2 linked regions of the Homo sapiens genome follow. The protein of the gene in region 2 purifies or fractionates together with the protein of the main gene of each other region. This does not show direct contact. Each region holds a gene or a part of one and is shown on either strand. Other genes may lie near its edges.

Region 1 (5,088 bases), on a different chromosome or scaffold from region 2:
AATGTCATGCCAGGCATGGGTTCATGCTCTTCTAGCCCAAAACGCCCACCAGTTCCCCCAGACAACTCAATTCTGCCACAAAGCCTTTCCTAACTTTTCTAAATCTCCATGTCCCTTGAAGTTACTTCATGTGTATTAAATTTAACTATTAGAACAAACAGGACTCAGTCAAGTAACTCGTGTGAGGGAATTACATAAGACTGGCAAACTGGAGAGCTCTGACCAAGGCTACTGTTCCTCAGCCAAAACCAAACACTGGCTGCCACACAGCAATGGTTCTCAAACTTGAGTGCACGTCAGAATCATCTGGAGGTCTTGCTAAAACTAAGAAAGTTCTGCCTGCCCCCTCTGCCTCTCCACCCCCAGTTTATGATGCAGTAGGTCTGGGGTGGAGGTTTTGCTTATCTCATACATTTCCAGGGGATACTGATGCTGCTGGTCTAGGGACCACACTTTTGAGAACCACACCCAGATGGGGACACAGCTCCAGAGTAGCCAGATGGTCTCTAAAAAGTCAAGCTAGAAATTCACGACTTCTGGATTAGACTATAAACTCCTTCAGAAAAAAAAGCAGTCTTTTGCTTCTGTTTTCCCTATTACTTCTGTATCAAGCTAAGCACAGAACAGGCACTTGATGTATGTGCTCAAAGGTGATAAATTAGGCAGGCAGATGTCAATTAAAGCAGCTACTCTTTCCTTTCCCTTACCACTCATCCTTCTCCTTCTGTGCTTCTACCATCTCCATTACTGCCTTCCTATTGACCAAAACTACTGAAACATGATTCACTGTTTTGAATATATGAACACGGAAAAGCTTATACATACACATGTATACGCGTCTGTAAAAATAAAACATTAAAATGTCTAACCCTCCAAAGCCTACCAATAAAACTATGGCAACAAATTCTTAGGATCATATTTCTCTTGCCCAATAAACAAACAAGTATAAAAGCAAACTGCTGGAGAATAAGCCTGGAGCAACACAAATGTTTATAAAATATTAGAGAAGTGCTAATGGATATTTTCATAATTAAACCGGGGGACTTGAGAATCTGGGCTCTGTCTGATACAAGCCGTTCATTAAAATTAAAAAGAAAAAAAAAGGAAAGGGAGCATAAACACATCAAAATCCAACACAAATCAGTAAGAAGCAGTACACATTTCTAAGGCTAAAAATGCCAAAGAGAAGGCCAGATACCTCTGCTCTTATCTGCCGCATTGAGTCACGGTCCCTCAGAGTTGCAGTGTGGGGGGTCTTGTTCACTGTGTCAAAGTCAATGGTGACACCAAAAGCCACGCCAATCTCATCAGTCCTGGCATAGCGCCTTCCGATTGACCCAGAGGAATCGTCTACTTTGTGAGATACTCCATGCCTGGTCAGGGCTTCCGCTATCCAAAATAAACAAAGTAAATTAAAAATAAAACAATGGAGTTAAGCCCAGTGTTATCTAACTACTGTCTTACAAGCTCAGGAGACTTATAAATGGGACCAAGACAAGAAAGCAACAAGTTGAGTTGCAAGAGAAAGAAATATCCCTAAAGTTTAATAAATCCCTTGCGGGAATCCAAATCTTCACTCATACCTCCATCTGATACAGCTATAGGGGGAACAAATATGGGACCAAGAGCCAAGGCCAGAAGGTGAGTCCTGACTCCACCACCTCTATTTTTATGGCTCTAAGCAGGTCAATGGACTCTCCCCATTTCCCAGCTCTGAAATAAGTGGATGTGCCAGATGACCACCAGGATTCCTTTCAGGGCTGTGGATTCTGTGGCTGTAGATCCATTATGGTTGCTACACTCCACTCAGGTTCCCTCGATGAACTTGGCACCAAGGTCAGTATGAGAAGTAAATAATTTTTAAATCTGACTCTTGGGTCCTACCTTGCCTCACTCAAATGCCAGAATAAAACATCTGAGCAAGCATATCCTCTCGCTTAGAAATAAGAGTACAGGCTAAAATCATGTACTCTTTATAAAATCATTTATATTCTTTATTCAGTCTATATTTTTATTGAAATAAATGATACATTTCCTAAAATTCAGTCTCCTTGATGGTGTTCCCATGGAGTTTACCCAATTGAATTTGCTTACATAATTCCTTGACAAATGGCATGAACTCCTGGTTTTGGCTCAGTGGGAGGACGGAACATTTGAATGGAGCAACTACAGCAGGGAAACTGAAGAACTGGATGATTTAAAAAGAAAAAAATCCAAATATGTTAATTTGTAAATATCTAAATGCTAATATCCCAAACCAAAAGAGGTTAATATTCAGCAAGTGTTCAAGCATAACGTCATTACCAAAATGCCAGAAAACATGACATGAAAAGCAGTATGGCAAAAGAGAAGCAGAACCAGCATCAGAAACACCTGGTTTCAGCTCCGAATTTAGGCCAAGTCATGAACTCTTTCTGAACCTTAGTTTCTCCACCTAAAAAGCAGGTCTCTACCACCTGCTCTGCTTGCTTCACAAGCCCGTTACTAAAAAAGTCAAATGATGTGAAAGCATTCTGAAAGCTACTGTATATAAAAGACGGTAATTTTTTGGTTCCACATAAAAGACTTTCTGTGGAGACTACCTAAATATTCAAACAAGTGGCAGTGACCCAAACCAAAGCCCATTCTGTCTTTTAAGAGAAAAACCTATGAACCTCAGTGACCAAGTGAAACAGAAAAGTTTAATTAGCTCACAAACATATGTCCAAAAGAAATAGTACAAAACAAAAAAAGATGTTCCATATACCTACACTAAAAAGTACAGCCTTCTTAAACTGCCCTGAAATAGTTTCTGAGTAACTCAGAAATCAAAGAAAGCAAAAATAAGGCTGGACACAGTGGCTCATGCCTGTAATCCCAGCACTTTGGGAGGCTGAGGCAGAAGAATTGCTTGACCCCAGGAATTCAAGACCAGCCAGGGCAACATGGCAAGACCCCATCTCTACAAAAACTAAAAAATTAGCTGGGCATTGTGAGGCGCACCTGTGGTCCCAGCTACTTGGGAGGCTGAAGCAGGAGGATTGCTTGAGCCCAGAAGTTTGAGGCTGTAGTCAGCTGAGATTGTGCCACTGCACTCCAGCTGAGCAACAAAGCGAGACCAAAAAAAAAAAAAAAAAAAGGCGAAAATAAAAATATTCTGTGGAAGGCAAACCAATCAACCACTTTAGGTTGGAAATGGGAACTGAAGGCAGTTCTTAATACTTGTACAAAAGGTTCACTTGAAGGCAAAAACACAGAATAAATTTGTCCCATAAAAATAATGAATGACACAGGTTCCAGTTTAGCCTCTCACCCAAAGTTCAATTAACCTTTATTGCCAAGCAATGAATATCCCACTCTAAGTAAGGCCTGTATTCCACCAATATGGCTGCTCACATCACAGAAGGTTCAGAATTCTATTCCCTTCCTCCATCTTGTGATATTTCTATTTAATATAAGAGAGTAACAGGGACCTGCCTTTATAGAAAAATAATTTTTAAAATTTCACTAGCAATGTTTTTATACCAAATTTATAGGCAAATGGATTGAGGAACTAGGTGCTAATAATTTAGAAACATTTTTGGCTTCCCACAGCCTAATCAAATTTCTCTTCATGATGGGAATTCATGCAATTCATAAAACACTGTGACTAATTTATTCTTGTTTAGCCCTTACGAAATTTCTATTAAAGCTCTAGTTATATTAATATTGTTAGATTCAAAGGAACAGCTAAAAGATTTTCTAAAACCTTTTTATTAGAAAAATAAGCAGACAAAGCTTGAAGCAGACTTGACATCTAAAAAGAACACATGCAGTTATGTTTGTCATCATTTCTCAAAAAGAACCAAGCCTTATGTTTGCGCACCTGGGGCCTAGCCCAGGTTCTTACAATCTGTTGAATGAATAGGGCTGCTCCTTCAAGGTTGGGAAATGAAGATGCAACTTTAGGGCAGAGAGTACCATACTAACTTTATTAGCTATGTATTACAATAGTGTGTCAGACTAAAGTACTGGTGCCGAGAACTCACTAGTTCATTCTTTGAGGTTAAATGTCCTAGAAAGAACCACACGGTTGATGTCTAACATTACGTACACTCAAGCTTTAGAATGGCCAAGTGGATGACGCTGTTTCTTTCAATTAACCTGACATATACAACCTCTCCTTTCTAGCCATTCTTCTGGTTGGCTTTCCTAGTAATCTGCCCAGGAGTGTAACTTCTGCAGGCAGAGGTGAGGTAAAAATGGTGAAGTAAGGCAAGGAGATAAAGAGGAAGAAGGCAAGGAGCAGTGATTCAGAAGCATCAGACCGAAAAGAAAATTTGTGGGAGCTGATGAAGACTTCTTATAAACTTCTATCTTCAGCAATACTTGAATGCTAGGAAAGGCTATACCCCAGACAACTATTATCCCATTTATGATCTGTCAAGCTTTCACAGTGAAATCACTCAGGATTCTTATTTTTTTTAAAAAAACCCCAGATCCCTGGGTCTCAGACCTAGTGAATCAGCATCTCCAGAGTAGAACCTAGGAATTCACATCTTTACCCCAAAAGTACCCCAGACAATTTCATGCAGTTTGAGAGGGTTCCCTTTGATACTTTACCAGAGTACAGATACAGCTTAGTGGTCTGGCTAAATTCTAGGAGTTATCTCATCCTTCCCAATTTTCTGAAACACAGCATATCCAGAAAGTACCATTCCTTCCATTGACATAATATAGATTGTTCCCCAAAGTAATAGGTTCAGTCTAAGAATAGAGAGCACCAGGCAACTAAAACAATAGCTTCTAGAATAACCTAAAGCTCAAATAAGATAACACAGGAAACTGGTTTGTCTATACATACTTAAGCAAAGATGAGTGTTAATAGCACTAGATTATAGTAATAACTAATTGACCATTCTAGAGTCTTATTAATGTACTTCACAATGTAATTCAGAAAATTTTTATTTTCTGACACTATAACAGCACACTGTACACAACAACTTACTGTTCTCTGTTCATCTCCTTCTCGTACATGGAATGTATGTTCAAATACCGTATACATGATCCTACCCAGGCCGAAGGAAGGTTCAATTACATTCGGAACAACTTCTTCCACTGAAAAAGAGA
Region 2 (5,088 bases):
AAACAAACAAAAAAAACCACAATTCTTTTCACAAGGCTTCATTTGGAAGCAGAAACTTTCCAGGCCACCATGACCTTCCCAAAAAGGCCCAGAGAGATACAGAGGAATCCAAATTGGCAGAAGTGGCTATCCCAAGCCAAACTGAGCTGAGTCAACCACGTGGCCTGCTCGGGGGCTCTGAGACAATGGAGCTACATTCCCCAGATGCCGCCCAAGCTGTCAAAGGAAATTAGGTGAGATACCAGGAATGGGAAGGGCTAGGCCCACATCAAGAGCTCAACAAGCACTCCAGGCCTTGCTGAATCCCAAATTCACACAAGCCTTCTTGCTAGTTTCAGCCCAGCAAACAACAGCAAGCAACTGTGTGGTAATGTGAATACAATGTTTTCCCCCTTTTCCTCCTGGGAATGTTTCGTCAGGAAATGTTACCTTCAGATACAGGGATCTAATGAGCATGCTAGGATGCTGAGATTCTTGGGAACGCTATTTAGCAACGGCATTTCTGAGGACTTCACTTCAACCTTAGACAGACAAGAGTTGGTCCAGCCTAAGACCTACATCCTCAGAGGATGAAGGTAGATGACCTGTCTACTCTGCCCCTCTGCAGTACTCACGTTCCCCCACAGAACTCAACAGAAGTCAGGGAGCCAGCAGGCCCAGAGGGGTCATCCAGCAACTCGGACACCGGGACCCCAATGGAGACGACTCGCACAGGGTCAGGATAGGTCTCATCAAACACAGCCCGTAGGCCCTGGATGGCTTTCGCTGCTGCCAGGGGGCAATCCTGGGTATAGACGGCCTGCCAGACCAAGAAGACAGAAAAGAGCTGGAAGAGATCCCTGGAGGTGCGGTACGACGAGGCAGGAAAGCATGGTCCTGCAGGCAGGACTCGGGTTCCAACCTGGCTTGGCCTAGCACGTGCCATGAGCTTCCTCAATCACACGCCACGTGCAAAGTCAAGGGCATCAGTATGGGAATTTCCAACTATTTTGTTAAACTGTGGACCAAATCTCATATGTGAACAGACTTAACTAGAACAGCTCTGGTTCTCCCAAGGTGGGGTGGGACAAATGCCTCTCCCTCTCCCCTCCACCAACCACCACCACTGCCCCCGGCAAAAGCACAGATGGAGAATCACTGCTTTAAACAAACTTTTTTTTTTTTTGAGACGGAGTCTCGCTCTGTTTCCCAGGCTAGAGTGCAATGGCGCAATCTCGGCTCACTGCAAGCTCCACCTCCCGGGTTCACACCATTCTCCTGCCTCAGCCTCCTGAGTAGCTGGGACTACAGGTGCCCGCCACCACGCCCGGCTAATTTTTTCTATTTTTAGTAGAGACAGGGTTAGCCAGGATGGTCTCAATCTCCTGACCTCGTGATCCGCCCGCCTCGGCCTCCCAAAGTGCTGGGATTACAGGCGTGAGCTACCGTGCCCAGCCTGCTTTAAGCAAATCTACGTGCAGGACGAATCTGATACAACAGAGTGAGAGCACCGCACTGCTAAGACTGTGGACAGACAGTGACGGTGTGGGGAGGGGGGGCATTCAGCCGTCGCCCATCCTACCTTGGCTGCCTCAATCATCTCATTAGCAATCTCTTCAGCCTTCTTGATCTGTTGGGTGGACATGGCTCCCTTGGCAGTAAAGTCAAATCTGAGGCGGTCAGGAGCAACCAATGAGCCTTTCTGGTCAGCTTCCCCAAGCACTGAGCGCAGGGCGAAGTTCAGAATGTGCGTAGCTGTGTGGTTGCTCATGATGGGTCTTCGTCGGGGCTGGAAAGGGCAGAGGGGCTCATGGAGAGGTCTGTAATAGACTGCTAGTTATCTCCTCGTTATCTGCTCCCCCGAGTGCTACAATTTTTAGTTGGAAATATGGCTGTGCAGAATAAAGGTTACATTTCCCAGCTTCCCTATGGCTAAGTGTGTCCATGTGACTAAGTTCGGGTCAAAAGGTTTTGAACAGAAGTGATGTCTACCATTAAAGGGATGGGGCAGGTCCTCCCATTTCTTTTCCACCGCCTAGAACAGGAATTGCCAAATGACGGCCGATGGCTAAATCTAGCCTGTCATCTGTCTTTTCATTTTTAGAGACAGGGTCTTGCTCTGTCACCCAGGATAGAGTACAGCGGCGCGATTGTAGCTCAGTGCCACCTCAAACTCCTGGGCTCAAGTGATCCTCTTGCCTCAGCCTCCCAAGTAGCTGGGACTACAGGCACACACCACTACCCCCAACTAATATTTTTTATTTTTTTGTAGAGATGGGGTCTCATGTTGTTGCCCAGGCTGGGTCTCAAACTCTTGGCCTCAAGCAATCCTCCCACCTCAGCCTCCCCAAATGTATGTGTTTATAAATTTTTATAAACAGTTTTTTTTTTTTATAAGGAGTTTCGCTCTTGTTGCCCAGTCTGGAGTGCTATGGCATGATCTCGGCTCACTGCAGCCTCCATCTCCCGAGTTCAAGCGATTCTCCTGCCTCAGCCTCCTGAGTAGCTGGGATTACAGGCATGCACCACCACACCCGGCTAATTTTGTATTTTTAGTAGAGACAGGGTTTCTCCATGTTGGTCAGGCTGGTCTCGAACTCCCGACCTCAGGTGATCTGCTCGCCTCGGCCTCCCAAAGTGCCGGGATTACAGGCATGAGCCACTGTGCCCAGCCATAAACAGGTTTATTGGAACACAGCCACACCTGTTCATTTACATATGGTCAATGGCTGCTTGAACACTCCAACTATAGAGCTGAGTACTCATCACCAGGAACATGTGGTCAGCAAAGCCAAAAATATTTAGTATCCAGTTATTTACACAAAGTTTGCCAACCCCTGGCCTAGACAATGGATCTGATAGCTATCCTCTGAACCAGGAAATCAAAGGCAATGCCCCAGGAAAGAAGGTGGAGTGACAGGTGAGGAGAAACCAGGCCCTCTGACTGTGGGGCAGAGCCTCCGTATCAGCTTGAGCTTTTTAGAACATACACTGCTATCCTGGTTTTAAGCTACTCTTACTCTGGAGCTCTGTCACATGCCAGAGCCTACCTCTTCATTCTTCAGCATCCTTGGCTCCCAAAGAAGTAGGTGACGTTAGAAAAGCAATCCGTGAAAACAAGTCCACGGGATCTTAACTGAAATCACTGGTGAAATCACTGACTTGGGAACATATAGATTAACTCTTAGTTGCATCCCTCACAATCCACCAAATGCACCTAAATTAACCCCTGCGGTCTACTTACACTAGGGAGTGATAACAGTGACAGGACAATTTTTTTTTTGAGGCGGAGTCTCGCTCTGTTGCCCAGGCTGGTGTGCAGTGGCGGGATCTTGGCTCACTGCAAGCTCCCCCTCCCGGGTTCACGCCATTCTCCTGCCTCAGCCTCCCGAGTAGCTGGGACTATAGGCGCCTGCCACCACGCCCAGCTCATTTTTTATATTTTTAGTAGAGACGGGGTTTCACCGTGTTAGCCAGGATGGTCTCGATCTCCTGACCTCATGATCCACCCGCCTCGGCCTCCCAAAGTGCTGGGATTACAAGTGTGAGCCACCACACCCGGCCCAACAGTGACAGGACAATTTAAAGCCAGAGGAGAAGATAATTACTAACCAGATCCAATGGGGGCCACAGTAACCCAACTCACCTCATCAATAAACAGCCAGACCTGATCCCCCACTTTCAGGTCACCGTAGATGGTTCCAATGTGTAGCACATACCCTCCTCGGACCTGAGCATTCTTCACTGTAAACTCTGTTTTCTAAGAGGGGTCAAGGAAGAGACCAATAAATAAATCCTTAAAAACATACAAATTTTCTTATATTTTCAATATAAACTCGTGTATATAACTTCTCTTTACATATGTAAATTGCACACACACACATACTCCCTTAATATCATTAAATATGATTAAATAGGCCAGGTGCAGTGGCTCATGACTGTAATCCCAGCACTTTGGGAGGCTCAGGTGAGTAGATCACCTGAGGCCAGGAGTTCGAGACCAGCTTGGCCAACATGGTGAAATCCCATCTCTACTAAAAAAATACAAAAATTAGCCAGGCGTGAAGGCAAGTGCCTATAATTCCACCTACTCAGGAGGCAGAGGCAGGAGAATCGCTTGAACCCGGAAGGCAGAGGTTACAGTGAGCCAAGATCATGCCACTGCACTCCAGCCTTGGCTACAGAGCGAGACTCCATCTCAAAAAAAAAAAAAAAAAATTAAATATATTTGTGCACACACACAGACATAACCAATATTAAGGAGCATCTTAGAATTTTTTTTTTTTTTTTGAGACAGAGTCTCGCTCAGCCACCCAAGCTGGAGTGCAGTGGCGCAATCTCGGCTCACTGCAACCACCCTCTCCTGGGTTCAAGCGATTCTCCCCTCTCAGCTTCCCGAGCAGGTGGGATTACAGGCATCCACCACCATACCTGGCTAATTTTTGTATGTCAGTAGAGACAGGGTTTCACCATGTTGGCCAGGCTGGTCTTGAACTCCTGACCTCAGGCGATCCACCCGCCTTGGCCTCCCAAAGTGCTAGGATTATAGTCATGAGCCACCACACCCAGCCGCATCTTTGAGTATCTAAAAGCCTCCATAAGGAACCTGAAGCCTAGGGAGACAAAGTAACTCATTCAGCAGCGGCAGAGCTCGAGGCTGAGTTTTCTACAAGGACATCTCCCCTTCAGAGAGCTGCCTCTCCTTTTTAATGTGCAAAGCTTGTAGGAAACTTGTACCCTGGCTGCAAAAATACTCCTACGAGGGTACCCGATGGCCAGGAAAGCAACAGGTACAAGCAACAGCTCCCTCGGCTTCAGAAATACCATGGAACCCAACCCAAAGGTGTGTCAGGTCTGCTCCCAAGGCCTGGAGCACTGTGGGGCAAAAGCAGCTCCCCGGCTCCACGCCTGGCCCTCCTCGGCTAACAAGGAAGAACTGTTGGCTCACATCTTCACTGCTGTCATCCACCTTCACCAGGTAGCCTTCGTCATAGATCTGGCCTCCTTGCTCAGCATAGAAACAGGTCTTGTCCAGCACCACTCCACACTCCTGGCCTGTGGACACCTCTTCCACGAACATCTTCTCCCTGCGCAGAGCCATCACCGTAG

The links. Proteins that work in one complex are often made in the same cells at the same time.
Region 1: the proteins of AARS1 (region 2) and GARS1 fractionate together in Homo sapiens (co-fractionation; 2 studies listed by BioGRID). This does not show direct contact.

The regions. Positions count from the first base shown.
Region 1 is NC_000007.14:30,628,548-30,633,635, reverse strand, and holds part of GARS1 (glycine--tRNA ligase isoform 1 precursor), read right to left. Parts: intron 5,077-5,088; coding exon 4,967-5,076; intron 2,189-4,966; coding exon 2,095-2,188; intron 1,390-2,094; coding exon 1,199-1,389; intron 1-1,198. UniProt on the Homo sapiens protein: Catalyzes the ATP-dependent ligation of glycine to the 3'-end of its cognate tRNA, via the formation of an aminoacyl-adenylate intermediate (Gly-AMP).
Region 2 is NC_000016.10:70,257,419-70,262,506, forward strand, and holds part of AARS1 (alanine--tRNA ligase, cytoplasmic), read right to left. Parts: coding exon 4,928-5,088; intron 3,740-4,927; coding exon 3,626-3,739; intron 1,769-3,625; coding exon 1,562-1,768; intron 800-1,561; coding exon 615-799; intron 1-614. UniProt on the Homo sapiens protein: Catalyzes the attachment of alanine to tRNA(Ala) in a two-step reaction: alanine is first activated by ATP to form Ala-AMP and then transferred to the acceptor end of tRNA(Ala). Also edits incorrectly charged tRNA(Ala) via its editing domain.